Linked DNA regions of Homo sapiens. The protein of the gene in region 2 purifies or fractionates together with the protein of the main gene of each other region. This does not show direct contact. Each region holds a gene or a part of one and is shown on either strand. Other genes may lie near its edges.

What was found.
Region 1: the proteins of DSTYK (region 2) and LSM12 purify together in Homo sapiens (affinity purification with mass spectrometry; one large-scale study listed by BioGRID and IntAct). This does not show direct contact.
Region 3: the proteins of DSTYK (region 2) and DDT purify together in Homo sapiens (affinity purification with mass spectrometry; one large-scale study listed by BioGRID and IntAct). This does not show direct contact.
Region 4: the proteins of DSTYK (region 2) and MTPN purify together in Homo sapiens (affinity purification with mass spectrometry; one large-scale study listed by BioGRID and IntAct). This does not show direct contact.

The regions. Positions count from the first base shown.
Region 1 is NC_000017.11:44,036,878-44,044,845, forward strand, and holds part of LSM12 (protein LSM12), read right to left. Parts: intron 3,380-7,968; coding exon 3,270-3,379; intron 1,308-3,269; coding exon of another isoform or gene 1,212-1,307; intron 662-1,211; coding exon 535-661; intron 226-534; coding exon of another isoform or gene 28-225; exon of another isoform or gene 1-27. UniProt on the Homo sapiens protein: Nicotinic acid adenine dinucleotide phosphate (NAADP) binding protein. Confers NAADP sensitivity to the two pore channel complex (TPCs) by acting as TPC accessory protein necessary for NAADP-evoked Ca(2+) release.
Region 2 is NC_000001.11:205,162,351-205,170,318, forward strand, and holds part of DSTYK (dual serine/threonine and tyrosine protein kinase), read right to left. Parts: intron 7,483-7,968; coding exon 6,813-7,482; intron 1,606-6,812; coding exon 1,373-1,605; intron 657-1,372; coding exon 573-656; intron 1-572. UniProt on the Homo sapiens protein: Acts as a positive regulator of ERK phosphorylation downstream of fibroblast growth factor-receptor activation. Involved in the regulation of both caspase-dependent apoptosis and caspase-independent cell death.
Region 3 is NC_000022.11:23,969,900-23,978,330, forward strand, and holds DDT (D-dopachrome decarboxylase), read right to left. Parts: upstream 4,543-8,431; 5' UTR 4,516-4,542; coding exon 4,408-4,515; intron 4,045-4,407; coding exon 3,869-4,044; intron 3,445-3,868; coding exon of another isoform or gene 3,228-3,444; exon of another isoform or gene 3,198-3,227; intron 2,658-3,197; exon of another isoform or gene 1,725-2,657; coding exon 1,652-1,724; 3' UTR 1,508-1,651; downstream 1-1,507. UniProt on the Homo sapiens protein: Tautomerization of D-dopachrome with decarboxylation to give 5,6-dihydroxyindole (DHI).
Region 4 is NC_000007.14:135,947,911-135,955,878, forward strand, and holds part of MTPN (myotrophin), read right to left. Parts: intron 3,721-7,968; coding exon 3,607-3,720; intron 2,773-3,606; coding exon 2,689-2,772; intron 1-2,688. UniProt on the Homo sapiens protein: Promotes dimerization of NF-kappa-B subunits and regulates NF-kappa-B transcription factor activity. Plays a role in the regulation of the growth of actin filaments.

The DNA.
Region 1 (7,968 bases), on a different chromosome or scaffold from region 2:
TTGGGAGGCCAAGGTGGGCAGATCACTTCAGGTCAGGAGTTCGAGACCAGCCTGGCCAACATGGTGAAACCCCATCTCTAGCCGGGTGTGGTGGCATACGCCTGTAGTCCCAGGTACTCGGGAGGCTGAGGCAGGAGAATCGCTTGAACCCGGGAGGCGGAGGTTGCAGTGAGCTGAGATCGCGCCACTGCACTCCAGCGTGGGCGACAGAGCGAGACTCTGTCTCTAAAAAAGAAAAACTCAATATGGGATGAGAGAAACTGCTCAGGCCCAATACCATGGAACAGTCTTCCTAATTCCAAAAAGCCAGCAAAGGACATAGGGTCACCCACTCACTTCTTTCCACACCACCCAGTGGTTCCATTCCCACAGGACTGCAGAACCCCACAGTACAGGGAAGGCAGGGAGGCCAGACAGGGCCTCTGCTGCTAGAGGAGGCAGAGACTGTAGCACAATGTCCTGGTCTGGTGCTAAAGACTGAAGGCCTGAGGAACCATCCTCTCTCCCCTAAAGTCTGAAGGCTCCTTTACTTACTATTTTGCGTACATGGCTCAGTGCACTCCCCTCTTTGCCTTTACAGTTTTCCACTTGATATGGGGGTGTAATAACAACTTCTTCCATGACTACGATGTTTTTTTCTTGCCATTTACAGTCTTTAATGCTGGAAGGAGAAGACAGCAGGCGAAATGTAACCTCTTGGGGGCATCCCACATCTCCTGTCTGATGAATAAATAACTCCAGAAGGCTGATCCCAAGTTCCCAGCTCACCACTCAGCCAACAACTAGATGCCAGCAGCCCATATAGTAGCCAAGAAACATTCCTTGGGTGCCACTGGCTAGAAAAGCAATGAAACTCATGCACATTTATTCTTGGGAGAGCCCAGAAATTGTTACTCTGAAGCATCAGAGATCTGGAGAGCCATAAAAATGTGATAGTGGCCTCAAGAATCCAAATTAAGATAGCAGCCTAGGGCAGAGGCTGGCAAACTTTTTCTCTTAAGGGTCTTGTAACAAACATTTTAGGCTTTGCAGTCCATATCATCTGTTACAACTAGCACTGAGTTCTGCCATAGTTGTACAAAAGTAGCATGGACAATAGGTAAAACAGATGAGCAGATGTGGCCTGCTGGCATAGTTTGTCAACCATTGGCCTAGGGAGAAATACCACCTTTAGAAAGACAGGAGAACAGGTCGGGCGCGGTGGCTCACACCTGTAATCCCCGCGCTTTGGGAGGCCGAGGTGGGTAGATTGCTTGAGTCCAGGAGTTCGAGACCAGACTGGGCAACAGGGCAAAAACTCGTCTCTACTAAAAATACATACAAAAAATTAGCCGGTAGTGGTGGCATGCGTCTGTAGTCCCAGTTACTCCGGGGGCTGAGGTGGGAGAATCACCAGAGCCGGGGAGATTGAGGCTATAGTAAGCTAAAATCGCACCACTGCACTCCCAACCTAGGCAATAAAAGTGAGACCCTGTCTCAAAAAAAAAAAAAAAAAAGAAAGGCCAGGCACAGTGGCTCACGCCTGTAATCCCAGCACTTTGGAGGCCGAAGTGGGCGGATCATGAGGTCAGGAGATCGAGACCATCCTGGTCAACATGATGAAACTGTCTCTACTAAAAATACAAAAATTAGCTGGGCGTGGGACTGCGCGCCTGTAGTCCCAGTTACTCAGGAGGGTGAAGCAGGAGAATCGCTTGAACCTGGGAGGCAGAGATTGCAGTGAGCCAAGATTGCACCATTGGACTCCAGCCTGGTGACAGAGTGAGACTCCGACTCAAAAAAAAGAGAGAGAGAACAAACTCCCCATCTTCCTATGATCTGTACTCTGACCCTTATCACCCATAATGGGAGCTGCTCTTCAGACTGGCTCTTCTCAATTATCAGACAGTTGGGCACTTGCCAGACTGGGAAAACCCATTCCAGTTCACACTTGGGAAGCCCCAGGGCAGCTGATGCGACTGGGAGTTCCTTCACATACCTGTAAATGTTCAGATACTCACACCACAGCCTCAAACAGCTCTGATGCCAGCTGCCATCTGTGCACCAGATCCAGGGTGGTTAAACAGAGTAACAGATGGCAGTGTGGGGTGGGGGGAGGCGGGGTGGAGAGGGGTGTCAAATGTTCCAGTTTTTCAGCAGCTAGGGAAGCTAGTGGAGAGTCAAATGACTTCTGCTGTGACAAAATGTTTTTTTTTGAGACGGAGTTTTGCTCTTGTTGCCCAGGCTGGAATGCAATGCACAATCTTGGCTCACCACAACCTCCACCTCCAGGGTTCAAGCGAATCTCCTGCCTCAGCCTCCTAAGTGGCTGGGATTACAGGTATGCACCACCACGCCTGGCTAATTTTGTATTTTTAGTAGAGATGGGGGTTTCAACATGTTGGTCAGGCTGGTCTGGAACTCCCGACCTCAGGTGAACCGCCCACCTCGGCCTCCCAAAGTGCTGGGATTACAGGCGTGAGCCACCGTGCCCGACCAACAAAATGTCTTTTTTTTTTTTTTTTTTTTTTTTTTTGAGACGGAGTCTCGCTCTGTCGCCCAGGCCGGACTGCGGACTGCAGTGGCGCAATCTCGGCTCACTGCAAGCTCCGCCTCCCGGGTTCACGCCATTCTCCTGCCTCAGCCTCCCGAGTAGCTGGGACTACAGGCGCCCGCCACCGCGCCCGGCTAATTTTTTGTATTTTTAGTAGAGACGGGGTTTCACCTTGTTAGCCAGGATGGTCTCGATCTCCTGACCTCATGATCCACCTGCCTCGGCCTCCCAAAGTGCTGGGATTACAGGCGTGAGCCACCGCGCCCGGCCCCAAAATGTCTTTTAAGAGGTGGTAAGAAGGTGGCCTGCTCTAACTCCCTGTGTTCATCCCAATCTACAATGGGAAAAGTGATATAGATATAACTTTCCCTTAATAAAAACTGCATCAGCTTTTAAAGAAAGGCACAAAACAACAAAATCAAAGAGAAGAAATCACTAGTTCTAAGTTATGGACTACTAGGTCTAGAAGGGATCCTTAGGGATAATCTAATCCAAAACTAAGTTTTACAGACAAGCAACTAAAGACCAGAGAAGACAACTTGTCCGTGATTACACTATTCTTCTGTGTGGAAAGGGGGCTACAGCACCTGCACCTCTGGATGCTGGCATATTGCCAATACCCTACCCAGCTTCCCCAGTAGACTTTTAGGAAGACAACCACCCAAAAGCCTGCCACCAGACAGCACAACCAGGTAGCATTACCCCAGGACAAAGGACCTCTCCGATCCCAACTCACGTCTTGTGAATGGTCTGGAAGAGCTGCTGGCCCTCTAGAGAGACACCAGCACTGATTGCATAGGCCTGGCTCAGCTTCTCCTCCTTCTCTGTCCGTGCTTTGCTGGCAAGCTAGGGTGGAAGAGAGGAAAGAGACTCAGAATAGGATTCATCTTCATTCTTGCCAACAGTCAGGACCTAAGCTGAAGAAAGGAGGCCAGGAAAGACTTGTTTGGACAGATTCTGTTTTCTCAGAAATGAAAAGTGAAACAAATTTTAAAAATCCACGACATACCTGAACAGTTACTGGTATTCCAAGAAAACGTTCCTTCCTTCCTTCTAATACTTACTGCATACCTACCATGTGCCAGACATTCACTATGCTAGGCTAAATATAGCCTGAAGTGGGTGGGGGAGACAGACTATAAACAAGTAACTGAAATCAAGGTGATTTCAGACAGTGATAAGCACTAGGAAGAAAATAAAGCACTTTTAACATTATAGAGTGTGGCTGGGGGACTATGTGATGGCAAATGATGGTCAGAGATTTAAAAATATATACATTTCCGGCCAGGGGAGGTGGCTCATGCCTGTAATCCCAGCACTTTGGGAGGCCGAGGCAGGTGGATCACGAGGTCAGGAGGTCAAGACCAGCCTGGCCAAGATGGTTAAAACCCTGTTTCTACTAAAAATACAAAAAAAAAAAAAAAATTAGCCAGGCGTGGTGGCGGGCTCCTGTAATCCCAGCTACTTGGGAGGCTGAGGCAGAGAATTGCTTGAACCCAGGAGAAGGCTGCAGGGAGCTGAGATCGCGCCACTGCACTCTAGCCTGGGTGACAGAGCAAGACTCCGTCTCAAAACAAAACAAAACCAAACAAAAAAAAATACATACACATACACACACACACACTTCTAACTGGGTGCATCACTGAGGTAGGGAGTTCGAGACCAGCCTGGCCAACATGGTGAAACCCCGTCTCTACTAAAATTACAAAAATTAGCCGGGCATGGTGGTGCGTGCCTGTAATCCCAGCTACTCAGAAGGCTGAGGCAGCAGAATCACTTGAACACAGCAGGCAGATGTTGCAGTGTGCCGAGATCATGCTACTGTACTCCAGCCTGGGCAAAGAAGTGAGACTCTGTCTCTTTAAAAAAAAAAAAAACAAACACACACACACACACACACACACACACACACACACACACACAAACACACACACACACACAGAATTTCCATTCAAGGCGAAAATTAAGATTTATCAGCTGTTGTGCTAGAGCCTCCAGTTTAAAAATTAATACATACCACACCTTCACAGACCACAATCTGAGACTCTAAAAACTCTTACAGAACATTATCTGTGCTCACATAGGGAGCCAGGACTCAAGTAAATCTAACCATAAACGCTGTCCACCTTTAACTTTAGCTAAAGGCAACCCTGTCCTGCTTTTGAGAAAAACGAAGAGTCTGAATTCTACGTCATGTCTGTTCCTTCACTGCCCTCTGGTGGAACCATCCACAAACTGATCAAAAGAAAATCTAGTAAAATCTGGTAGTCTACTACAATCTCGTAACTTCTACCCTGTCAATCCCTATCACCTCTCCAGCACATTTCTGATCCCTACCCCACACTACTGGTTGCTAGAGATTCCAGAGGTACAAATTTGTTTGAGTGTAAGACAAAACAAATGTGCTAGACAAGGTAGTTAAAACAAATTAAAGGCAAACAATGCATCTTAAAAGTCCAACAAATAATCTGGAGACTCTTCAGACCCATGAACATGAACAGCTGAGTCTAACAATGCTGCAGCACATGTGCAAACACGCGCGAGAACACACAATTTGTCCCCAAACATCAGTTCCTTAAATAAAAAGAGGCACTGGCTGGGCCCAGTGGCTCACGCCTATAATCCCAGTACTTTGTGAGGCCGAGGCAGGCGGATCACCTGAGGTCAGGAGTTTGAGACCAACCTGGCCAACATGGTGAAACCCCGTCTCTACTAAAAATACAAAAATTAGATGGGTGTGGTGGTGTGCACCTGTAATCCCGCCTACTCAGGAGGCTGAGACAGGAGAATCGCTTGAACACGGGAGGCAGAGACTGCAGTGAGCCGAGATTGTACCACTACACTCCAGCCTGGGCGACAGAGCAAGACTCCGTCTCAAAAAAAAAATGGGGGAGCCATACCTACAGCATATTCCAAAAGTACCTTAATGCTTGGAATCTTCAAACATTTATATTCTGCTTTTACAGTGATCCATCAAACCATAAACTAAGCATAGCTTTTTTTCTTGGGATTGAGTTTCACTCTTGTTGCCCAGGCTGGAGTACAATGGCACGATCTCAGCTCACTGCAACCTCCGCCTCCTGGGTTCAAGCGATTCTCCTGTCTCAGCCTCCAGAGTAGCTGGGATTACAGGTGCCCGCCACCACCCCCAGCTAATTTTTTTTTTTTTTTTGAGACGGAGTCTCGCTCTGTCGCCCAGGCTGGAGTGCAGTGGCGCAAGCTCTGCTCACTGCAAGCTCCACCTCCCAGGTTCACGTCATTCTCCTGCCTCAGCCTCCCGAGTAGCTGGGACTACAGGCGCCTGCCACCACGCCCAGCTAATTTTTTTGTAGTTTTTTAGTAGAGATGGGGTTTCACTGTGTTAGCCAGGATGGTCTCGATCTCCTGACCTCGTGATCCACCCACCTGGGCCTCCCAAAGTGCTAGGATTACAGGCGTGAGCTACCACACCTGGCCATTTTTTTGTATTTTTAGTAGAGACAGGATTTCACCATGTTGGCCAGGCCGGTCTTGAACTCCTGAGCTCAGGTGATCCACCCACCTCAGCCTCCCAAAGTGCTGGTATTACAGGCGTGAGCCACCACGCCTGGCTCCAAGCATAGTTTTATAGCAGAGGAAGTAAACCAAGTGTCTAATTCTTTGTTTATAAAATTAAGCACTTTCTCAAGGCTTAGGTTTGACTATGAAAAAAAAGGAGGCCTTCAATTGCCATGGGTATTCTTGTCCTTGCAAGTTTCAAAGACTGTCTTAGGAAGGAGGAGCAGGCGTGAGCACAGAAGGCCAGCTCACGCTGTCATTTCAGCCTCCCCGGGTAAGAGAGGGAAGAATGGCAAAACCCTGCAGTGATCTGAAGCCAGAGCTCCTTTTTCACAGGATCTCTAGGACATGGAGAGAGACAAATACAGCAGCAATATATATATAATCTTTCAAGACTGGCTGCCATTCTGGCCCTACCAGGCTATAACTTTACAGACAAATAAACACACAGGCTGACAGCATTCCAAGCAGTGGCAATCCCAACTGTAACAAGAAAGCCTTGTAGTTTCTATGGAAAGAGCTGCTGATGATGTATTTTAAGCAGCAACAAGCAACGCTTACTCAAGCACCAAAAAAACCCCGGTAACAAGGAGGAGTTTCCTTTTTTTTTTTTTTTTTGAGATGGAGTCTTGCTCTGTGGCCCAGGCTGGTGCAGTGGTGCAATCTCAGCTCACTGCAACCTAAGGAGGAGTTTCCTTGAATCTTGCTTTCCAAACAATGCCTTAAGAAAATCTGAAGTCGGCCAGCGCTGTGGCTCACGCCTGTAATCCCAGCATTTTGGGAGGCTGAGGGAGGAAGATCACTTGAGCCCAGTAGTTACAGACCAGCCTGGGCAACATAGTGGGACCCTGCCTCTATTAAAAAAAAAAAAAAAAATCTGAAGTCTTTAAGGAAAGAAGGAAAAACTGGAGGGTGGCAGAGCTCCTGGGAAGCATCTAGTGGACAGGCGGGCATTTACCTTATAAGCAGGCTGGAAGATCTCACTTTGAAACCTCAATCCCCTTTAAAAACGTTTATTCCTGAAAATCCAAATCATCTCCGAATGCTGGGTCAGAGAAAGCTGCTTCTATAAAGCTTGTGTTGACTAGATAGTCTGAACGTTCAAAGAGTAAAATGTCGTTGTCACCTACATAGCAGCTTAAAAACATAACATCACCCCATTTAGTAAGAGACAAGAGTTGGCTCAGGAAACCAGGCATCTATGCAGAATGTTTAAGAATGGAACTGACAAATTAAGCTAGAGAAGGGGAGAAAAAAAAGCTGGAAGAAGAGCCACTTGAATTTTTGCCAGAGAGAAAATAAAATGGATATAAATCTCAGCCAGAAGTGATTCTTTAGACAGGCTGAGTAACAATGACACACTGGTTATAGAACAATGATTTCAAAATACACCCCCCACCCCCGCCAAAATACCAGTTGTGCAAGTGCAATCTCCCCTAAAGTCTCCAAAAGCAAAGGAGAATGGACTAGACAATTCTCTATTTCAATTCTAATGCAAACATCCCAAATGCTAAATGATGTAAGGGAGCACTTAGAAAAGTCAGCAGAAATGACTGTAAGCTGACTGTATATATTTTCAGTTTGCCCCCAATATACTCAACCTACAGTAATGCTTTAGGGATCCGGACTCAGCTACACAGATCTGCTTTTACCAGGAAGCTGTACAAATGGGATAAAATCTCCTAGAGAGGACCCCATCAATTAGGGGTCCCCATCAATGGGGGAGACCGCTCTCAATAAAAGAAACTAGAAGTGTTTCCTTTTTTCAAAATTGAGGGTGGGGAGAAGGAGATTACCTTGCCCTTTTTTGTCATGAAAACTCATGCAGAACATGAATATGCCTTCTTTTGTAAAGCAAACGATTATCACTCTACCCTCAATTTAGCTGCTGTACAAAT
Region 2 (7,968 bases):
CCTTTCCAATTCCATCTACCACAAAATCAGGTCCTAGCCCAGAGAAAAGCATCAAAGAACACCAGGCCTAGTCTACATGCTCACAAACCCTCAATATATTACATTCAGTGCCAGGGAGTGCCTGATAATCTTTCTGAAGTCAGTAAATAACTCTACATAAGAGCCAGATCAAATTCCAGAACAGAAACCACATTCACAGCCTCTGGCAACAACAAAGCCTAGTTCTGAGAAAAGATTTAGGCTGGGAAAAAGAAATATGAAGAAGCTAGTGTGGTAGAGTCTTATGGCTCCATGAAATATCATTTATCTTTTTTTTCTATTTTTCCATTGTCCACAAAGAGCACCCAACATAAAAATCATTTAAACCCAAAACTTCTGAGAGTTCAAGGGAACAATGTTAATAATTATTTAAGAATAGGCATAAACCAGAATTCTCCCAGGCAGGCAAACCAGAACAAATGGTCACCCTGCCTTAACAGAAGATCCTAGATATCTGTTTCCTACTGGGGTCACTATGATTCATTTGAGCCAACTAGGGGCTTTGAAATCTTTCTCTAAGTAATAATCCCTACCTGTTTGATTTGCTCCCATAGCATCCTTGTAACTGACGACCCTGAGTGAAACGTGACTTCAACATGATAGGCAGCATTTAAGATCTGAAAGAGACAACGCCAAAGAAAACATGTCCTCAGTAGTGTGGCTATTTTAAAAATGCAATAAATGATACTTATTTCAAGAACACAGTCCAGACTCAGGGTTTCCAAACTTACCCCTCAATATATATGCAGAGTCAACTTAAGCTGATTATTTATTTTGTGACTATCTAGCCCCTTCTACCTCATCTTTATATTCATCAACTTATTTTTTTATTTTTTTTTTTATTTTTTAGACAGAGTTTCACTCTTGTCCCCCAGGCTGAAGTGCAATGGCGTGATCTTGGCTCACCGAAACCTCTGCCTCCCAGGTTCAAGCGATTCTCCTGCCTCAGCCTCCCAAGTAGCTGGGATTACAGGCATGCACCACCACGCCCAGCTAATTTTGTATTTTTAGTAGAGATGGGATTTCTCCATGTTGGTCAGGCTGGTCTCCAACTCCCAACCTCAGGTTATCCGCCCACCTCAGCCTCCCAAAGTGCTGGGATTACAGGCGTGAGCCACTGTGCCTGGCCTATATTCATCAACTTAACTGCAGTTTTACAGCTCACCAACATCTCCCACAGGCAGTGGTCATGTGACAGGAAAACAAAATAAAATTCAAACAAGATTCGCAAGAAGCTGAAAGGGAAATTCTTGCCTAATTTGAAGTGTGGACTTGTGCAGATTTTTCATGTGCTATCTATGACACGATGTCTTAAAAATCATTCTTTGTCTACCTGTTTGAGATAATTACTGGTGATGTGAACTGAGACATCCTGAGACTTCTCCAGGCTCTGCAGACATCGTTCCAGGGTTCCGACGAAGCTTTCCCTCAGGTAATCCACTGAGCTGATCAGCTTATTAGCCACTGCCTGATTAAGTCGGGAGATGATGAGTTCCTGGATCTGTCGGATGCAGCATTTGATCTCTCTGGTGCCTACTGGTTCTCCATTCTCAGGGACAATGACGTCTATGGAGGCAGAGAAATAAGCTGAATAGTTGTGAGGAAGAAGGGGCAGACACACTAAATAAAGTCATCTCCCAAATCAGAACCATGGAACTACCGTGATGATGATGGCTGCAAAAAGACATGATTCGTTGATGATGTCTAACTCTCACAATGATCAGGGGTCACGTAACCCTCAACTACTAAAGGCAGCTAAGATCCTGAGAAGAAGCAATTAAGTCCAGGTGCAGTGATTCACGCCTGTAATTCCAAAACTTTGGGAGGCTGAGGCAGGAGGATTGCTTGAGCCCAGGAGTTCAAGATGAGCTTGGGTAACAGTGAGACCTCATCTCTACAAAAAGTAAAAAGATGAGGCAGGCGGGAGGATGGCTTGAACCTAGGAAGTAGAGGCTACAATGAGCTGTGATTGTGCCACTGCACTCCTGCCTGGGTGATGGGAGTGAGACCCCGTCTCAAAAAAAAAAAATAAATAAGAAGCAATAAGTCTAGAATGAGACTGTTGATTTTGTTAGCTTTTTTTTTTTTTTGAGACGGAGTCTCGCTGTGTCGCCCAGGCTGGAGTGGAGTGATGCAATCTCGGCTCACTGCAAGCTCCGCCTCCCGAGTTCAAGCCATTCTCCTGCCTCAGCCTCCCGAGTAGCTGCGACTACAGGCACCCGCCACCACGCCTGGCTGATTTTTTGTATTTTTAGTAGAGACGGGGTTTCCCCATGTTGGCCAGGATGGTCTCGATCTCCTGACCTCGTGATCTGCCCACCTCGGCCTCCCAAAGTGCTGGGATTACAGGTGTGAGCCACCGTGCCCGGCAATTTTGTTAGCTTTTATGTCACATTTATAGGAGGGGAGGAACAACATTTATGAAGTGCAAACTATTTGAAAGGCACTAAAATAAGGATTTTACACATGTAATCTAATTTCATCTTCACAATAACTTTGTTACATGGGTATTATAGATCAGGAAACAGCCTCAAAGAGAGAACAAAGTAGACATGGGAAGGGAATAGTACAGTTAGGAAGTAATACAGCCAGCTTTTGAACCCAGTGCTCATTATTCCAAATCCTATGATCTTTGCAAAATTTCACACTCCCTAGCATATTAATGAGAAAAACCCAAGAGTCAGGAATTGTATTCTATGTTTTGTTTTGTTTTGCTTTTTTTGAGACTGAGTTTAGCTCTATCGCCTAGGCTGGAGTGCAGTGGCACGATCTCGGCTCACTGCAACCTCCGCCTTCTGGGTTCAAGTGATCTTGTGCCTCAGCCTCCCAAGTACCTAGGATTACAGGCACCCACCACCACGCCAGACTAATTTTTGTATTTAGTAGAGATGGGGTTTCACCATGTTGGCCAGGCTGGTCTTGAACTCCTGACCTCAGGTGATCCGCTCACCTTGGCCTCCCAAAGTGCTGAGATTACAGGCATGAGCCATTGCCGCCGGCCAGGAATTTTATTCTAATCAATTACTAGATAAATAAAAAGTAAAACTCAATTGTCCCCACCATGCCACACTATCTCTTAGGATTAGAACATCTATTAATGTTGTAAATCAGAGGACAGAAGAACTTGAGAGAAGTCAAACTACTTGCAAAAAGATGTGCTCCTGAAAAGGCACTCTCATGTCTACTGGTGGAAACTTAAATGGGTGCCACTTCTTCAGAGGAAATTTGGCAATATCTATTAAAATGTTCAACCAACCAAGAAAAATCTACATACCCTTTGATCTAACTATTTTGCTTCTAGGAATTCTTTTTCTTGAGATATACCCTTACAAGTCCCAAGGTGTATATGTACAATGATGATTAATGCAGTACATTTTGTATTAGCGAAAGAGAAAATAAAAAATAAACAAATAAGCCTGGCCAACATGGTGAAACCCTGTCTCTACTAAATACAGGTATGATGGTGTGATGGTGCACACCTTTAGACCCAGGTGTGATGGTGCACACCTTTAGACCCAGCTACTAGGGAGGCTGAGGTGGGAGGATTCCTTGAACCCAGGAGGCGGAGGTTGTAGTGAGACTAGACCAGGCCTCTGCACTCCAGCCTGGGCGACAGAACAAGATCCTGTCTCAAAAAAAAATAAATAAATAAAAATAAAAAACAAAAACAAACAGCTTAAATGTCCACCAATGAGAGAATAGTTCAATAAATTCAGGCATATCCATTAGAAGAAGACAAATTTGTATGAATATTTATGGAATGCCCTCTAAGATACATATTAAATGAAAAAGACAAGTGCAGAAGAACATATGGAGAAGAACTGGGTGGCTGGGGGATGGTGTCTTTATAACTCTGAGTTAAGTACTATACATATAGGTTTTATCTTAAAAATAAATTTTATAAAGTGTGAATATCATGATACCTAGCACATATGCATTGTCTTTATTTAAAAACAGACAGTAATAGTAATCTGGCTCAACGCTGGGCACGATGGCTCATACCTGTAATCCTAGCACTTTGTGGGGGCTGAAGCAGGAGGATCGCTACAAGCCTGGGCAACACAGCAAGACCTCGTCTTTACAAAAAAAAAAAAAAATCTGGCTCCATAGAATATGTGCTAGCTTGCTTCTAAATCTTCTTATTGTTTCAAGGATACTCAGAAAGCACTTAGAACAAGGTAAGAACAATCGGATACTTTACTGTCTGCCCAACCTAGCTGTCCTGACCTCCATTCTGTGTAATATGATGCCGGCAGTGATGCTCTGGTGTCTTTAATCAAATATTGAGAAGACTTCCTAAGATTTCCACTGCAAGTAACACTTCTCAACAACTCCTCTCGCAGTGGGGAATTAACCAAAGAGGTATCTCTGTTCATCTTTAGAATGACTATAAGAAATCAGGCAACCTATGTTTGCTAAAGTCAACCATACTTCCTTTGTATTTATAAGTGTAACTTAAACTAGATACCATCATTCACACACTCATTGATTCTCCAAAGACGTACTGTATACAAGAGTCTGTGTTATTTGCTGCAAGGAATATGATGATGAATAAGACCCAGATCCTACCCTCTTTCAACTCTAGGATTTTAGGAAGTAGTCCGCAGTACATAAATAACTATAATAAAAGATAGAAAGTGAAATATGCCAGAAATAAGTTACAGATGGAATGCTATGGGATTTCAAATGACTGCAATTGTTATTAGCTAAGAAAATTAAAGCAGGGCTAGGTGTGATGGCTCATGCCTATAATCCCAGCACTTTTTAGGAGGCCGAGGTGGGAGGATTGCTTGAGACCAGGAGTTCAAGACCAGCTTGGCCAACATGGTGAAACCCCTGTCTCTAAAAAAAAATACAAAAAGTTAGCTGGTGTGGTGGCATGTGCCTGTAGTCCCAGGTGTGCAGGGGGCTGAGGCAGGAGGATTGCTTGAGCCCAGGAGATTGGGGCTGCAGTGAGCCATGACTGCACTACTGCACTCCAGTCTGGATGGCAGAGCAAGAACCTGTCCCAAAAATAAAAAAAGAAGGAGAAAATTAAAGAAGACTTCATGAAAAATGGCATTTGGGAGACAGGCCCTGATGGGTAGGTAGGATTTGGAAGTTCACAGACAAATCAAAGACATTCCAGGTTTAAGGCAGGGTGTTAGCAAAGAAAAAGTAAAGGGAGCGTATGGAGGACAGAAAGAAGTTAAGACCAACTGACATAGAAAATACAGGAAAGTGCATAGTGGGGAAATAAGACTGGAAAAGTTGGTAAGGGCTAGGCTTTGGGAGGTCTTTAATACTAGGTGTAGGAGTTAAACTTAGTCTGTAGAAGTAGGGAGCCAGTAAAGGTGAACTGAAGAAAGAAGTCAGGGAGATCAGTTAGATAACAATAGTTCAGTTAGACTTAAGACAGAATAGAAAAGCATAGATAGGTATCGAATACGTAAGAAGATTAATCGAGGCCAGGTGTGGTGGCTCACGCCACCCAGCACTTCGGGAGGCCGAGGCGGGTAGATTACGAGGTCAAGAACATCCTGGCCAACATGATGAAACCCCGTCTCTACTAAAATACAAAAAAAAATTTAGCCGGGAACGGTGGCACACGCCTGTAATCCCAGTTACTCGGGAGGCTGAGGCAGGGGAATTGCTTGAACCCAGGAGGCGGAGGTTGCAGTGAGTCAAGATCACGCCACTGCACTCCAGCCTGGGCGACAGAGCGAGACTTAATCTCAAAAAAAAGAAAGATTAATCAGTACTTGGCAACTGATTAGCCAAGGGAAGACAATTCAAGACCATGCTGAGGTTTTGAAGGTGGGTACCAGGAAGAAGGTGGCATCAGTAACTGGAAACAGATTAAGAAGCAGTAAAGGATGGAAATTAAGAATATGGGCTCAGGAATCAGACTGTCTGGATTCAAATCCTGCCTCTAATATTTACTAGCTGTGTGACCCTGGGCAAATTACTTACTCTTTCTAAGCCTTAGTCCCTCATCTAGAAAAAGGAAATAAGCAGAATCTACCTAGGGAGGTTATTTTTTAAAAATACTGATGCTGGGTCCCATGTCAGAAATCGTGAGTAAGTCTGCAGTCATCTTTAGTGGTCTTGAGCATGTGTATTTTCAGAAAGCCTCCCAAGGGATTAGGATACTCACAACTGAGACTCTAAAGGGTAACTTGCAAACCATGTCATTTTAATCTTGCATGGAGGTTTATACAGAAGTCAGTATACAAAATCAGCAGCATCTCAGACACCCAAAGACCTGACCAATCACTTTCACCCAATTTTGTTAGTAGCCATTTGTGAAGAATAGGACTGTCAAAAGGCTAAAAACACAACTTTGGGAAATCCTCCTGATGTGGGCTTCAGAAGCAGCCTGAAAGGAAATTAGACCATGAGACAAAAAGAACCAATAAAGAGGCATGAGCCATACTGCAGGAGCAAAGGTTAAAGCACAATTTACTAACATTCTCCAAGCAGCTCTTCTCCAGCTCCATTAGGGGTTGAGGGGGTACAGGCAGAAAGTGGAGATTACAGAGCTATTAGGATGAATTTACCAAAAGTTGAGCTAATGTTCTTGGGAAGGAATGAGGGTGGAATCTTCCACAATGATCTTTGAGAGCAAGAGAGGCCACCTTGGCTAAATAGTGGGCTCCTGCTGGTAACAGTGGGGTGGATGAAGTTACCCTGAGATTCCTTTAACCTTAGGAATTAACGTTCTTAATTTCCGGCTAGAAAATGGTTAGAGACTCCTCCCGTGCCAGCACCCCAACAAGCTCTCTGGGACCTACCTTTAAACTCCATGTTAGTAGCATCATCCAGAAGTTCCTCCTTCATGGTATTAAGTGTCTCAACAATCATATCCTTCATTTCCTCCTGCTTTCGGTTGGCAATATTCATCAATGATTCATACAACTCATTCTCCTTTTTTCGAGTATATTCCAGACGTTTGGGAGTGATCTGCAGGTCCCGCTGCATGTCAAATGCCTGGTTAATAAAGATGTCAAGGCAGTGGCAGTGCACCAGGTTCAGGGCCTTGGCTGCATCCACCAGGCGAGTCTGTAACACCTGGTGAGAAAATGTGCTCAAGTGTCTCAGCTTTTCACTCTGTTCCACCAACATGCTCTGAGCTTTAGTATCCTGGCCAGGAGCCCCACAGTTCCAGTGACTGCTGCTCAGATAGCCCAGGTCAATTAGCTGGCGATAAAGCGGTGATCTTTCGCTCTCCATTCTCCTGGTTGAGGAGTCTATTATCTCCGAGCCCAGTTTCGGCACTTTGAAAAAGAATACAGGAAAGGAGAAATACTTTCGGATTTCCTGAAGCTCTTGCTCATCCCTCTCAGAGAGTTCATCTTTGTGGAGTGCATAGGTTATCACAGGCAAGAAATCATTCACCAAGTCACCCAGAACATCCACTGTGGGCCGGAGGCCTTGGCATGGTGCTACCACAACGTCCACTTCCTGGAAGGGGAAGGGGGTCATATATCAGCGCCTCAGGGTCAGAACCAATCCCTGTCTCCCCAAAGTCCCACACTGAGACCAAAATCCTGATCTACAATGGAACAATTGGACTTCGGTACCCCAGCCATTGATCCACCTCCTTCCTCGGTTACCAACACTCCCTGGTGCAGCCTATGAAGGCAGGCACTCATCTAGAGAGAGTGAAAAAACAAAGAAGTAGAAAGGATGGCAACCCCTTTAGCCATCAGATTAAAAAAAAATTTTGGTCTCTGCCTTCCTTTATTGCTTAGACATTCCCACTGATTCCCTCTGATGAAGAATTAAGACAAATAATGGAAGAAAAAGGAATTGTAATGGAAATTATCAGACTGGGAGTGAGTCGACCTGGGGCACTCCTCCCCCTCTTGCTCTCCTCTGACACCTCCATCCCTGCCATTCTGACCTGGCTAACTCCTAAGCATCCTTTAAGTTTCAATGTATATGTTA
Region 3 (8,431 bases), on a different chromosome or scaffold from region 2:
TGTGTAGGTGGCAGTAAGTCTGGGAGAGCGACCTCGGCTGAACTAACTGTGGTGTGCATCATTGTTAAGCAGGGCCAGCAGGATCCTCATGTCACCTGGCAGGAGGAGGGACAGGGAAGGGTCCCTAGAAGTGACCTTGAGTTGCACTTAGTGCTCTTGGCAGAGGGAAGGGCTTGGGCTAGTGCTGGAGGCATGAAGATGGGGTGTGTTCAGGGCTCTCCAGCAGTCCAGGCATGGGAAGGGGACGCTGAGGGCCAAAGGCGGAGGTGACACTGGGAAGGGAACTAGCAAGGTGAGGACTGGCTTTTGGCCATGTGACTGAATTGCCTGTGTGGTGCGTGTGTATGTGTGCGAATGTCAGTGAACTGTGTGTGAGTGAATTGTGTGTTTATGTGTGGGTGTATATGTGTGTGATGTGAGTGAACTGTGTACATGGGTGTATACGTGAATTTTAGTGAATTGTGTGTAAATGTGAGCAGTGTGAATTTGAGTATGTGGGTGGATAAGTGAATTGTGATTTTGTTGGTGTGAATTGTGTGCCTGTGTGTGACGGGGAGTATGTGTGTGTGTGAGTGAACTGTGTGATGACTATGAATGTCAGTGAATGCTGTGATTGTGTGTGTGTGTGTACGTGTGTGGGGATTTGGTCTATATGTGTGAATTTGAGTTGTGTGACTTTGTTGGATGTGAGTGAATTATGTGACTGGGTGTATATGTGTGTGTACATGAGTTAACTGTGTGTAAATGGTATGATTGTATATGTGTGTGAATGTGATGAATCGTGACTAGATGCGGGTGGATGTGTGTATGTGCATGGTGTGTCCATGAGTGTGTAAGTGTGCAGGTGGCACAGTTGCAACAGGAGAGAAGACACAGGAAGCCTTACCTGCCATTCATCCCCCCAGCTGTCCTCCCAGCCTGGGGACCCCTGGGCTGGAAAGGTTATGAAAAGTGGTGCTACTGCCAGGAAGGGGTGATGGGGCAGCTGGGAGGACGGTTTGAGTCTTGCCAAAGGGAGGGAGTCGAAGCTTGCAACCCTGGGGAGGAGGAGGGGCAGACTGGGGACCCTGCTTCTGGAAAACCAGCGACCAACCCCCAAAGGGACACAGGCAACCCCTGCCTCCACTCTACAGTGGGGAAAAGGGGAGAGTGGCGTGGCAGGCTGCCCAGCCAGTCATGGAGGGAGTAGACTTCAGGAGGAGTACAGAGGTCTGGTCCCATTTTGGGGCTGAGGACAGGAGCCTCAGGTCAGCAGTCTGCAGGAAGGCCCCAGCTGGACCAGCTGCTCACACCTTCCCACAGGCCTGCAGATGGGTGTGGAGAGCAGAGCCTCCAGGCTGAGTCTCCCAGCCCCAGATCTGAGCAGTCTAAATCATCCCCCTCCAGGTTCCCTACGGTCTTATCCACCAGCCCTGCTGCCCATGGTGGCCCCAGATGCCCAGGAGAGATAATAGAAGGTAAGAAGTCATGTTTGAATGAGGAAGCTCTCTTCATTTATTTCATATGAGGATGAAGAAGAGGATTATGTGATCACAGGAATGTTGCATGCGGGATAATCCAAAGCTGGTTATCTCCAGGCCCTCACTCTGCCAAGAGATCTCTCTGGAAGAAGCAGCCAGTTCACAGATGCCCTGGATCCCTCCGTGCCCAATCATAAAAAAGTCATGACCGTCCCTATCTTGCCAATCTGCCAGGACTCCAAGGGGAAAAAGCGGATAAGTATCCTTCAGGAGACAGAGAAAAAGATATCATCAGCTCCTTGGCTAATACCACATCTTGCAAGACCCCTGCCAGGTACTCCCACTGTGGGTACTCAGGACAGCCTGCCTCAGTCCACCAGGCATTTTGCAAACCTGCTCATCCCAATAATGATTTTCCCCAACCCCCAGCAGGGCAGTGGGACACTCAGGTGTGGGAGGTAGCCGCACATCATGACCCAGCTAGGACAGACACACAATACAGTAGCCTCGGTGTGTGTGCCGTACACTCTATCATCTCCATCAGTTTGTGTACTGAGGGGTACCCTGCCTCCTAATTGCAGGCTCCCTAAGGGCACAGTACCTCAGCCACCTGTTTTCTCAAAGGCTGAGCACAGGGTGACCCCCCACCCCACCAACCCCGCCACTAATGTCTGGGCCATAAGTGAACATGCCCCTCTCAGAGGTAACAGCAAGTTTCCAGTGAGGAAAACCAGAACTTGGGACAGCCTGGTTGGGGCGGGCGGGAGTATGAACAGCCTGTCTTCTCATCATAAAATTGGCATAATGGAGATTATCTACCTCATGGGGATAGCATGTCTTGTCTGAGCAAAGGGAGAGTGGATAGGGATTGTAAGGATCAAATGGGATCATGAGTGTAAAGTACCTGTAGAGGACCTAGCACATGGTAAGTGTATAACACTTGTTGTTAGAGTAACAGTTTTCCCTGAGTATCCGTGGGAGATTTGTTCTAGAATCCCCAGAGGAAACCAGAATCTACATTTGCTCAAGTCCCTTACATAAAATGGTGTAATATTTGCATGTAACCTACACACATCCTCTCATATACTTTAAATAATCTCTGGGTTACTTATAATACCTAATATAATGTACGTACTATGTAAATAGTTGTATTGTTTAGGGAATAATGACAAGGAATAAAGTCTATACGTATTTTCAGTATAGATGCAATTATCAATTTTTTTTCCTCTAATATTTCAATCCATGGTTGTTTGAATCAACAGATGCGTAACCCAGTGATACAGGGGGCTGACTGTATTATTCCTCTGTAGCTTGAGGGAGGACCCAGCAGGATCAGCCATTCCTCATCGACCTTCATGGACTAACAAAGGCTCCATTTCAGAAGGTCTTTTTTTGTGAGCCAAGGTCTCACTGTCACACAGGATGGAGTGCAATGCGCAATCATAGCTCACTGCAGCCTCAACCTCCTGGGCTGAAACCATCCTCCCACTTCAGCCTGCCAACTAAGTGAGACTACATGTGCACACCACCATGTCCGGTTAATTTTTAAAACTGTTTTGGGGGATGGCATCTCACTATGTTACCCAGACTGGTCTACAACTCCTGGGTCAAATGAACCTCCCGCCTTGGTCTCCCAAAGTGCTGGGATTACAGGCATGAGCCACCGTGCCTGGACAGTGTCCTTTCAAGCTTCTCATGCCCTTACTTCCTCCTAGACATGGATGTGGCTCAAGAATATCTTTTACCCAAGAGGAAACTTTAACTCGGTCACAGAACGCCAGGTTTGGGTTGCAGACGCTTCTTGTGGGGGAGGGAGGTCTTTTCCCCTGTATTCACAGAAGAGGAGGTTGCCAACTGGAGATGGTTCATTTCCAAGTTTGTCTGGGGTCCCCCAGCTATGCAGGACCCAGAAAGCAGATGTCTAGACATCCAGGCCAATGGTCTTTCACTACTCTGTGAGTCTCCCGTGAACTTCACCTGGAACCTGGCTGGGACACAGGTCCAAAATACGTAACTTCAGAACATACCCAGAATTCCTTCTGACCAGCCTGGAAAAGTTCTAGAAAATCACACTTCAGCCACGTGTACCTACCCTGTCAGGTGCCAAGGCAGGTACAGCACACAGACAATCCCACATGACCCTTGCACTGCCCCGGGGGTGTTAAAAGAGAGCCTTCCCGGTTCACAGACTTACACACTGAGGAGCAGAGCCAGAAATTCATTCAATCCTGCTCGCACTTTGAAGATGGTCCTAACAGCAGGAACCTAAGGGGTCAGGGGGCCCCAAAGCTCCAGACCCTGATGTGTCCTTACTGGGCAGGGCAAGAAATGGGTTTTTCCCCCTGAGGCAGGATCAGTGGCTCCAGTCTGCGGCAGTCCCACATGGATCCCCTACTACCCCTACGCACCGGTCCTGGCCCAGGGCTAGCTCCTTGGTGAGAAACTCAAAGAAGTGGGCGCTGTGGCTGCGGTTGTCCTCGGCGGTGCCCACTACGCCGATGGAGGAGATGGACAGCTGCGCGCAGGGCTCGGTGGACCCGCTCAGCGCCATGGCCAGGCCCGGCCGTACCGTCACGTTCACGCGCTGAGGGGGACATGAAAAGTTTTGCCCGAAGTTGGAGCCGGCCGGGCTACCTCTGGGGACGGGACCCGAGCGCGCGAAAGCCGAAACGCGCAGTGTTCGCGGGGCAGGGATCCCGATACGGGCCGCGGTCCCTGAAGGTCACGCCCGGGTCATGACTGGGGAGGGCGACAAGGGAAAGACGTGCGGAGGGGGAGCCGCGGGATCGTGGAGCACGGAAAGTCAGAGCTTGGCGTGAGGAAAGGAGTGGGGAGTGGTCCCTGGGGAAAAGATTCGGGGTCACTGTCGGGGAGGCGGAGCAGGGACAGGGCCGGACCCCTGGCCCACCAACCTCCCCTCGCCCCGTGCTGCCCGGCCCACGCTTACGTCCGCAGGTTTGCCCAGGATGGAGGCAGCGGCGGCGCAGAGTCGTTTCTCCAGCCCCGCGGGCACTCGGTTGGCGGGCAAATTCGTGTCCAGCTCCAGGAACGGCATGGCGGGCAGAGGAACGGAAACAGCTCTGGCGGAAGAAAAGCTGGGGGTACCCAAGGCTCGCGGACCAGGGAGGAGGGGCGAGGCGCCACAGCAACCTGGCTTCTCATTGGCTGGACAGAGACTCGGCGCTCCCCGATTGGCTGCCTAGGGTACCTCCCGCTTCTGCAAACAAAAGTCACGTGTGCCGGCTGATTTCCGGAAGTCCCATCGTCTCCGCCCTACGTGTAGCCCCACCCACTACAGGTCTTTAACCCGGTAGTGGACCCACCCTGTCTCCCCCGACCCTCCTGCCTGGCGCCAGGTGGGTTTCCCTCTCAAGCTTCCGCGCTGTGGTCGCCCGGTTCCTAGCCCTATTAGAGGTCTGAACACCACACCCCCGACACACAAGGACACACACACACCTATAGGGGTCTTCCCCAGGCTCGACCCTAATAACCAATACAACGGGAGCTTAAAGTTTTTTTGAATGATTTGCCACCATTTCGAAGTCAGGCAATTTCATGTTCAGTATGGAAATCTGCGCTTGGGCAGTCAGGAGATGTGGTTACTCGCGGGGGCGCGGGTAGGGCTAGGCTCACGACAATACCTGTCCCTGCCTGGTCCCCATTGACATCTGCCTGTGTAGCCTCTTGTGCCGGTGGTGAGCCACTGTCCACCAGGGGGTGGCAAAATATGTTCTTTAAAACATGGAAAGGCCGGGCACGGTAGCTCACGCCTGTAATCCCAGCACTTTGCGAGGTCCAGGCGGGCGGATCACCTGAGGTCAGGAGTTTGAGACCAGCCTGGCCAACATGACGAAACCCCGTCTCTACTAAAGATACAAAAATTAGCCGGGCGTGGTGGCAGACGTTGTAATCCCAGCTGCTCGGGAGGCTGAGGCAGGAGAATCGCTTGAACCGGGGAGGTGGAGGTTGCAGTGAGCCGAGATCGCGCCATTGCACTCCAGCCTGGGTGACAGAGCGAGACTCCATCTCGAAAAAACATCAGAAAACATGGAACTCTGTTGGCGTGGCTTAAACATGAGTGTGGTCAGTGTGGCAAAATCACTTGAATTGTACATTACAAATATGACTGAAGTTGTGGTCGAGCAATGTGGCTCACACCTGTAATCTCAGCACTTTGGGAGGCTAAGAAGGGAGGATTGCTTGAGCCCAGGAGTTAAAGATCAGGCTAGGCAACATAGCAAGATTCTCTTCTTTATTTTCTACAAAAAAAAAAAAAAAAAGAAGAAATCTGGGTGCTGTGGTGTGTGCCTGTAGTCCTAGCTACCTGGGCGGCTGAGGCAGGAGGATTGCTTGAGCGCAGGAGATCTAGGCTGCAGGGAGCTATGACTGTGCCACTGCACTCCACCCTAGATGACAGAGTGAGACCCAGGCTCCCCCCTCCCCCACAAAAAAGAAAGAAAAAATTTGCAAGTTTATATGTACAATTTCAACTACGTGTATAAAATTCTCTATAAGTGTGCATACTTAAAGGAGCCTCCACTGAAAGGCCGACAGAGTCTCTGTCTGTCATGATCTTGTCCTATTAGCAGTTTGTTTATTAGATGACTCAGATATCAGAAGGTCTGAGACACACGACAGGTAAATATGACAGTCCTAAGGGGAGAGGGCAGGGACAGGTGGCAAGTCTGGGACCAGGTGTGGGGCATGGACAAGCCAGTGGTCCGGGAGTGGGGTGTAGAGAAGACTGTGGTCAAGGTTATGAGGAGGCATGGGAGAGGGCCAGGAAATAACCAGGGACTTCCCTTCCTGCAAGGAGGTTCATGAACCAGCCCTGCACCCCACTTGTGGAACACAACATCGCCCCACAGTGAGGAGAGAGACCGAGGAGACCAAGGCTGATCCTGATTCAGACATCTTTCCACCAGGTCACCCCTCATCGATGATACATGCTCAGTCCGGGGGTATCCCCCGCAAGGAAACACTGGGGCTGAGGAGCCCAGAGAGGTCGCCTGACCTGGACTGGGGCTGGGGAGGTCAGGGAAGTCTCCCTGGAGAAGAGACAGGGTGCCAAATGCCAAAAGACCAGGAAGGGCACCAGGCGAAGATGAGGAGGGAACAGCATGAGCGGAGGCCAAGAGGCCAAGGTGGGAGCCCAGAGAGGGGTTAGGAGTGTGCAGGCAGAAGGGGCCACCTGGAGGAGTGGGAGCAAGGCCTTGAATGCAAAGTTCAATGACTTGTACTTTAGCTTCTGGGCAGTGAGGAACCATACAAAGTTCCACACAGAAGGTCAGGGTCAAGTAAGCGTTTGCCCAAGCTCTTTTCAGAGGTCACATGGAAGCTAGAATGGAATGGGGTAGGAGACAAAAGGAATGCAGGCATGATATCTGGAGGAACTGTGGACCAGAGCCTTTGCAGATATGTCTTCTCTTCAACCAAGGAGACGGACAGCTCCATGTCTTTATTCTACCAACACAGCATCCCCTCAGTGGCTCAGCAAGTGTGGGACACGCACTCACAGCAAGAAAAGCTGCATTAAGGTCTTCAGATTCTCTTTAACAGCAGGTTCTACTGGAGGCAGGTCCTTGGCCTTCAGGACAGCTGGGAGGGCCTCCTGGAAGAAGTCCTCCCGCACTGCAGCCTCCACGTGTTGGGCACCATGCTGCCACCGTGGGTCTGCTTTCAAAGACTCAGCAGCCAGCACTGATGGGCTAGGGGAAGACAGAGTCAGCGGAGGGGCTGGGCATAGCCAAGTGTAAGGCAGCATGACCTGCTTTAGGGGTTCTCTGATTGGATTTTCCCTCCTCCACCATGTGTGTGATGGGCTAGGATGTCCCCCTCCCTGGGGACACTTGGAAGCCTCTTAATATAGCTGCGGTGAGGGGTTTGTAAAGCCCCATTTTATAGATGAGGACACTGAGGCTCAGAAGGAGAAGTGACTCACACAGGGTCCCACAGCCAGAAAAGACAACATGAGCTGGGATGTCAGCTCCCTTCCCGGATACACCACTGCCCAGCGGGCCACCGCACCCCATGGCACTCTCATGCCTCAGCTCCGTGATTGCCACCAAGCCAGCCACAGAGATACGGGGCCCAGTAAGGAAGGCCTGGTCCCGCAGGAACTTGTCCTCGAGCAGCTGCAGGCATCCGTCCAGCTCAGCCAAAGTGGCCGCCAACATCTCGGGTGGCACTGACTCGCCCAGGAACACAGGGATTATTATCTGGTGGGCCGACAGGCAGAGAGAGGGGTCAGGGTCTGCCCAAAGCCCATCCTGGTTCCCACCATCATCCTATCATCACCAGTCCTTGGGATTTCTGCTCACCTCTGCTCACTTCTTTCCACTCATAGCCACCAGTAGCTCTCATCTCCTACTCAAACAGGGACAGCCTCCCCCTTCTCCCTGGGTCCTCACACAAGGCAACCAGTGGGATCCTTCTGTAATCTCAATCTGCCCGTACCCTCTCTTGCATAAAGCCTTCCATGGCTCCCCACTGCCCTCATGAGAAAGGCCTCAACACAAAGCCAGCCTTCTCCAGTGCGGTAGCCATCCCCTCCCCACTTTTCACCTCACCTCCTACTACCCCCCACTTATCAAACGGGAATGTGTGTATGAATCCTCCCTGGAATCTGGTTACAGTTTATGCTCCCAATCAGTAAGGTCAGAGTGGGGCCTGAGCCTCTGCATTTCCAACAAGCTCCCTGGTGATGCTGATACTCCCAGTCCATTGACCACACTTTGGATAGGAAGAGTCTACACTTGCTCTACTCAACTTCTCTCCATTCTGTCCTCAAACACACCACGCTTCCTTCCCCACCAGCTGGAGGGGGCTCTGCTCCCAGGCCCCAGAGGTCAAGGCAGACACAGTTAAGGTGTGGAAACCTCCTTATTGCCCGATGGATCCTCCAGAGAGGCGGTCCCTTACTTTCAGCAGGGCGCGTGTCTACCTGTTTCATGCTGTCTCACACACAGGGT
Region 4 (7,968 bases), on a different chromosome or scaffold from region 2:
TATTAGTTGTGATCATACTGAGTTTCTAAATCCCTGTTTATTATTTTGCCTTTTTTCGTATGCTAAGGATAAATCAACTGGATAATGTATTGGAAATGTCAATGAATCTGGAAAGTTCTTAAACCAAGTCTTTTCAAGTGAATTCATAATAATCCATAAGAATTCTACTTTTGATAAAAGGCAGAACAAATTAGACTTAATATAAACACTGATTATAACTTTTAAAAGATGCACTGGAACAACTCTATTTTAGCAACTAAGAATTTTTGAAAGAGTATAATCAATTTTCAAAAAAAATCTGCCTAACAAAACTACAGGGTATCCATTAAAGAAGCTTATGCAATAATAAAATCAAAGTAATTAATTTTGAAAAAGCAGAACTAAAATGTACTATGCTGATTTCAAAAAGAAGAAAATCTCTTTCATATAAAACAACAGCTCTACATGGTTACAAACGGTCTGCTACCAACATAGCTATCTCCAAATGTCACTTATTTGGCTAAAAAAAGTCAAGGTTCAGACACAAAAGAACAAAATGGGCATAAGCAAAAGAAAAAACAAACTAGTTAAAAGTAAGACAACTCACAATCAATAATTTAGCAACACAGTACACACACAGAGAACCTTCTGGGATGACATCTTAGGGCCTAATGTACATGCAAATCAAGCCAACTTTTCAGGAACTCATTTAATGTTTTCAACTCTTTAACAACGGAAACTTACAACCACAAGGTCTCAATGACCTGAAGCCTCATGTTTTGGGAATAAGGAGTACAGAACAATGGTTTGGGTTCTCTATAGAATAAAAAATATATCCTGTTTTGTTTTTCCTAGGAGGACAGAGAGGTCTAACACAAAGAAAAATTGTTCTGATCTACAGTTTGAGATATGGTTAGAAGGAAAGAGTACATTTAGGGCAGCTCATTTAGTAAATGACAAGGGACCTAAGCAAAAAATGATCCCATGGAGGTTTTTATTTTCAGAGAACAAAACCCTTGGCTGGGTAAAAAAAAGGTCAGGGAAAAGGCGGGAACGAAGGGTAAGGAGGGAGTCCTCCATTTCTTTTGAGAGCTAGCAGATAGGCTGAAGCCATGGAAATAAAGCCAATGCTGAGGAAGAGACCTGGGACAGGCCAAAAATAAAAATAAAAAAATCAGATCATGGTCATGTGTCTTAAATCCAGGGTCAAGCTGTGCCTCAACTGTACAGTTATATAAATTAATAAGATCTCTTTACTGTTTAAGCCTGTCTGAGCTGGGTTCAGTTACTTGCAAGACAGAGTCCTAACTAATACAATATTGAAATTATATAAATCTTTCATAAACAGCAAATCTGTTTTTGATACAGTAAGCAAAAATATTTCCCAGGGATGAAATTATCTAGCAGTATTCAAAGGTACTTTGTAATCCTTTCGCAGATCTTGGGGAGGGATGAACAGTAAAGAGAAAGACAGTGACTGGAAATCTTTGCGAGCACACCCTATCACAGATGCTGGATCCACTAGCGGCAAAGAGTAATATTTCCATTTATTTTGGCTTTTGGACAAATGCATCATTCTTATCAGTAAGGTATAAAAATTGCTCTTGATATATAACCCAAACCCAAACAACAACAAACATATTTAAAGAAATCCAGTAATTGTGGTTAACATGAAGCTATGGATAGAAAAAACCCTAGCTCTATTTAGAGGACCCAAATTAACTGCTTTTAGAACCATATCTTTACAAAGTTGTCAATAAAGTGTTAAGAGATAAATGTGCTATCTTCTTTCCCAATTTTCTTCGTATCTTACTGAAGCTGACACTACAAAGCATTAAAATCCTCTTCAGCCTTAGTTATAATAAAAGCTACTACTTATTGAGTGCTTACTATGTATCAGGCACTGTGGCAAAATGCTTTATATACATCTACTCATTTCTGTTTTTCTCTTGCTTCTTTTAGTAGGGCTTAAGATCCCAAATGAAATATTATAAACAACACTTTCCAGAGTATGGTCATAAAATGACAAGGCTGGGATTAAATACTAGTGATAATACTGTAACTGGTAATATTTTCTGAAGATTTCTTGCTTTCCAACATCTGTAGGATCCATCTAATACAGCTAGAATGGCGGCAACTAAATGGTTAATTTCTGAGTCTGGATTTTGAACTCCATCTAAGGGCTTATAATAGCAAAGACAAAAAAGGTAGGAAAACTCCAAATTTACCACTATCTCAAGCATATCAAGAAACCAGATAACTTGGAGAGTCCTTACTTAACAGCAAACTACCTCTAACCATTTTGCTCGGTATGTATTCCAGAAAATGAAACATATACATTTCAAACCAGTGCTACTCAAAGCATGGTGTATGAACCTGGTGCCAGTCCACAAAGTGTTACTGTCCAAAATGACATTCTTCTATATCATCAAGTACAATGGTTATTTCAAGCTGGTTTCTGTGTGTGTGTGTGTAAAATATTTTCTTGACAAAGAAGACTGCTGATTTATATTCACCCAAGCTCCTTACCTACCACAAACTGGTAACAGTTTATGGGCCAGCTATTTTGAGTAACACTACACTTCAATTTTGTATATTGCTTCCAGTTTTCTGTCCCTGCTGCCACACAAAATTCAAATAAATTAACAATCAAATACTTGGCTTAAACACAGTAATAGAAAAAGCAATACTATTAGCAATTGACCTCACCTTTGACAGAAGCAATTTCACACAGGAAACATGACCCTCATAGACAGCAGACAGAAGAGGAGTAATATGATGTTTATCTGGAGCCTATGAAATAATAAACAGAGATAACTTTATCTGTTTTTCATTTCTTCCTACTTTCTAGTTTTAACTAGAAAACTCTTTCTAGATTTACCTATTTGCCTTTCTAGAAAATCAATCAATCAATCAATCCACAGAGTCAAGTGTCTAGTCTCTTAAAGCTACCAGAGACCCAAGCCCACGAGCAATGTCTTTCCTTAGGAGTCATAGTAGTAGAGCATAGGGAGCAGGGCTTTGACCTCAGCTCAAATCTTGGCTCTGCCACTTACTATGGTACTATTATTTAGCCTCTCTAAGCCTTGATTCCCCACAACTGTAGAAATGCCAGTGTGGTCCAGTAAGGGAAAACAGGGGTAAAACACAGCCAAAGAGGAGGTAAAAGGGCCGGGTAGCATGGCATCCCCTGAAATACAGAAGCTACAAAAGGCTAAAGTTGGGAGATGACTGCGCTTATCTGACCACTTGCCCATTGACCTTTGTCCAATAATCCATTTTAGATTTAGCCTATGACTGCAGAGTCCTATGCTGTATTACATCATAGCCATTTGTTACCCACAGATAGTGCTAACTCCCCAAGCTTTAGAACTTGAAAAGCAACAGCCACAGGGGAAACATACTAACCTTCAATTTTTGTCAGCTTAAAAAAGTCAGCTTTTTTGGCTTATTTTTAAAAATCCCACCACTGTATATCTAAGTTATAGGCAATTTGGCATAATTTCAGACTGTATTCTTATTTAGAATGAAGTTTCTACAAATAGCTATTTTATAATCTATAGAAAACAATTACCCATAGCATATTAACAGAAAATTTTTTCAAGAATGATCACGTCCTCTACGTACATTAATATCTGCTCCTTTCAGCAGCAGAAATTCCAGGATTTCAAGCTGCCCACAATCTGCTGCATAATGAAGAGGTTTCCTTCCACCTTCTAGTGTCCGGTTGACATCTTCTCCCTGATAAGAAAACCAAATGAAAACAATATTTATATGAATGGAAGACTGAAGAAGTGAAATGAGGCACCTGATACTTTTACTTTCTTAAAGCCGTGAGAGTTTCATGAAACAATTAACATTTCTTGCAAAATAAAATAACCAAAAACTTGAAATGAAATTCTGCACAAGAGTTAACATACAGTATGATGGAAATTCAAGCCACAATTAGTTAAGCTGAAAACAATATACAATAATGATAAATATAACGAAATACATTACTGTCCTCCATTTCTAAGGAGTTCAATCAGCATAGTGTCAATATGTGACCACAGAAGACTAGTGAGTTCAAGCACTGAGATTTTACACAGTTCATATTACATGTATTTTAATTCTTCAAAGAAAGTATTCCCACTTTGATGTAGGCAGCCATCAATATCACAATGTAATTTCAGTATTAGGTATTAAGAATTTATTTCATTTAACATTCAGTAGAGCCCAATTGTGTAGCAGGCACTGTGCTAGACAGTAGGAAGACAGTGGTCAGCAAAATCAGACATGACTCCTGACTGTATGAAGCTTACCGTCTGGGGTTGGGGGGCAGATATTAATAATCACATAATTAAACATATAATTTCAAAATACAAGTGCTACAAAAAATGGAACTCAGGGCTTTCAGAAGAACATGACAATCCTGGTGATGAATGGAGGTATAGTGCCAGAAAAATGAACTTAAGTCCAAAAAAGTCATTTTCATTCACTGAAGATTAACAGAGACTAAAAATGATGACTACCTTCGCTATGGACCAGCTGCAATACATCTGGCACTGTGATACACCCATTATTTCTAATCTTCAAACTACCCCAAGAAGAGAATAACCTCCATCTAATACATGAAAACTCTAAAGCTGAAGAGGTTAAATAACTTTTTACTGTGGTTCAGTTAGTAACAGAGTAGAGATTTAAACCCATTCTCTTTCTGTACCAACATGCTGTTTCTAATTCGCTATTTGCCCCTTCCCTCTTAGGAGAGTTCAGATTTTACTGAGGAGCAAAACATCCTATATTCTCTCAGCCGGGTGTGGTGGCTCACACCTGTAATCCCAGCACTTTGGGAGGCCAAGACTGGTACATCACTTGAGCCTAGGAGTTCAAGACCAGCCTGGGAAACATGGCAAAACCCCATCTCTACTAAAAATATAAAATTAGCCAGGCGTGATGGCATGCTCCTGTGGTCCAGCTACTTGGGAGGTGAGGTGGGAGGATCCCCTGAGCCCAGGAAGTTGAGGCTGCAGTGAGCCATGACCCTGCCACTACACTCCAGCCTGGGTGACAGGAGTGAGACCCTGGCTCAGACAAAGTTTATTTTCTCAACAATTGTATTATTCACTTAGCATAGTTTGGTCAACTCATCAAGCCATACCCTGAATCAAGATGTTCAGAGCCCTATCATTTTACAGCCACTATAAACCATTCTTTCAAACACACATACTCCAAACTCCTCCAAACTCCCCTTCCCCTTTGTCACTTATGCCTGCTCCCTCCTTCCTTCCCATTAATTTAAATACTATAGGTCCTACAAGCCTCAATCAAATTTAAGATTTACTTTGTCTATGAAACTTTCCATGATAATGGCAAGCTCTCTTTCTCGTAAAACTCACAGGAATCAGTTAGTATTTAAATATATGGTACCCTTACAACTTTGTGTATGCCTTCTTTCCCAACAGAATGCAAATTCCTTGGGAGTAGAAATTATATGTTTTCTTCTTTATATTTTCCTACAGTATGATGTGGGAGTTAAGAACAGGAGCTCCATCACCATTAGATCTTGGGCAAGTTACTTACTTTCTATGTGCAGAGATGACAGTACCTGCAGCTCATGGAGTTGTGGGGGTTAAACTACATGATCCATGTAAGGCACTTAAATATCACACTAGCTAATATTAACAGAAATACGGTTAGCTATTATCTATAAGTATTATCTATGTATGTAATAGGTATACTCAAATATGAATTTACTTATTTTTAAGCATTCTGAGAGAAGGGTGATATCAACTGTCTACCATAGCAACCAATGGTGTCAGTGAAGCATTAAGGGAACTAAATTATAGAGTGTTTCCAAATTCCAGCCCACATGTGTATTTCAAATATATATTTTTTTGGAGGATCAAGAGTTTCATCAGAAAGCATTTTCCTACCTGAAATATTAGATGATAAAACAATCTAAGTTAAGACTACTTCAATAATTCAAAGCAATAATTTCTAAATGATTGTTTACTTAAGTTAATATGTGATACATGCATTACAACAGGGCCTCCTGTAAATCAGAAGGATATAGAAGGAATGTATAATGTATATATGTAATATAATGTATATATATAATGTCTATATAAGGATGTATAATGTGCCTAAAATCACTGGAGACCAGGTTAGCACTCCAACTCTACCACTTAGTTGTGGGACCAGAGACCAGGTACTTTCTAAATTTTGGTTTCCTTATCCGTAAAATGGGAATAGAAATGTCTACACTTCACAGGGTTTCAGTGTTTCACTGGAAGAGATAACCTATGCAGTGTTTAGCATAGTGCCTGACACATTGTTTAACAAATGTTTAATGAAGGCTATTATATTTAATAAAGGTTCACTATTATTTTTGTGGATTCCTGGTACTGGCTTATACTAGACAAAAGATTATTCAAAATAGGATTAAGGCAGGTTTCTGCATAATGGTTGAAATATGAATAATTAAAGATATTATTTATTGTAACATGCTTTATATTCAAAATCAAATTTAAATAGTAAGGGCGAACTAGCATACCACCTTAGTCTTTATTCACAACTACAAAAATGTTGTTGAGGCAAAGAATGCTTAACAATTCAGATAAAATTAGTTTGCCCCCCATTATTAACATTTCCTTTCTGTTAATATTAGCTAGACAGGATTAACTGGACGAGTCTTTAGAGTGAGACAAAGCAAATAAATAAGTGCAATAAATCATCAATAAGATCTTTGTCAAAGATACTTCTGTGAACCAAAAATGTTACATCCTTCAGGGCTGGGCACGGTGGCTCACGCCTGTAATCCTAGCACTTTGGGAGGCCGAGGCGGGAGGATCACGAGGTCAGGAGATCGAGACCATCCTTGCTAACACGGTGAAACCCCGTCTCAACTAAAAAACACAACAAATTAGCTGGGCGTGGTGGTGGGCACCTGTAGTCCCAGCTACTTGGGAGGCTGAGGCAGGACAATGGCATGAACCTGGGAGGCAGAGCTTGCAGTAAGCCGAGATTGCGCCACTGCACTCCAGCCTGGGTGACAGAGCGAGACTCCATCTCAAAAAATAAAAAATGTTATATCCTCCCTTGCACTCTTAATACCAGTGCAAAATGCCTATGAAATGGAGTTGTGAGTTTAAATTTTCTCCTTTATTCCTTCAGACATTTACATTACAATTCTTATTTTAGCAGACAAAAAGACGATGAGACTGAAAAGGCTTTGTGTGACTGACAGAAAAAAATCCTTGTCAGCAGGGCCTTAGCAAAGCAGTACTTATAGAGAAATTTATAGCACTAAATGCCTGTACTGGAAAAATAGAAAGATTTCAAATGAATAATCTTTGTATTTCCATCATAAGAAACTAGAAAAAAAATTAAATCCAAAATAAGCAAGAGAAAAGAATAAAGATCAGGGTAAAAATCAAAGAAACAGAAAACAGAAAAATGAGAGGAATCACAAGCTGATTCTTCAAGATCAATACAACTGATAAGCCTCTAGCAAACGTCATCAGGAAAAGAGCGAAGATACAAAGTGCCAATATTGGACAACAGATTACCTCCCCACAAAGAAACCTTCAGACTCCAGATGGCACCACTGTGAATTCTACCAGACATTTAAGGGAAGAAATAATACCAATTCTACCCACTCTTCCCGAAAATGGAAGCGATGGGATGTTATCTCAACTCATTCTATGAGTTCAGCATTACTTTGATTCCAAAACAAGACAAAGATGTTATAAGAAAATACTGTATGCCAATATTCCTCATGACAAGTGATGGAAAAATTTTACACAAAATTTTAGCAAACGTAATCCAACACTATGTAAAAAGGATAATATACCATGACCAGTGGGGTTTATCCCAGGAATAAGGTTGATTTAATATTCGAAAAGTCAGTGAATATAATTTACCATTTTAACACAGAGAAAGCCATATGATTGACCATCTCAATGGATTATAAAAAAAAAAAAACCCAATATGCATTTGTCATCAGAA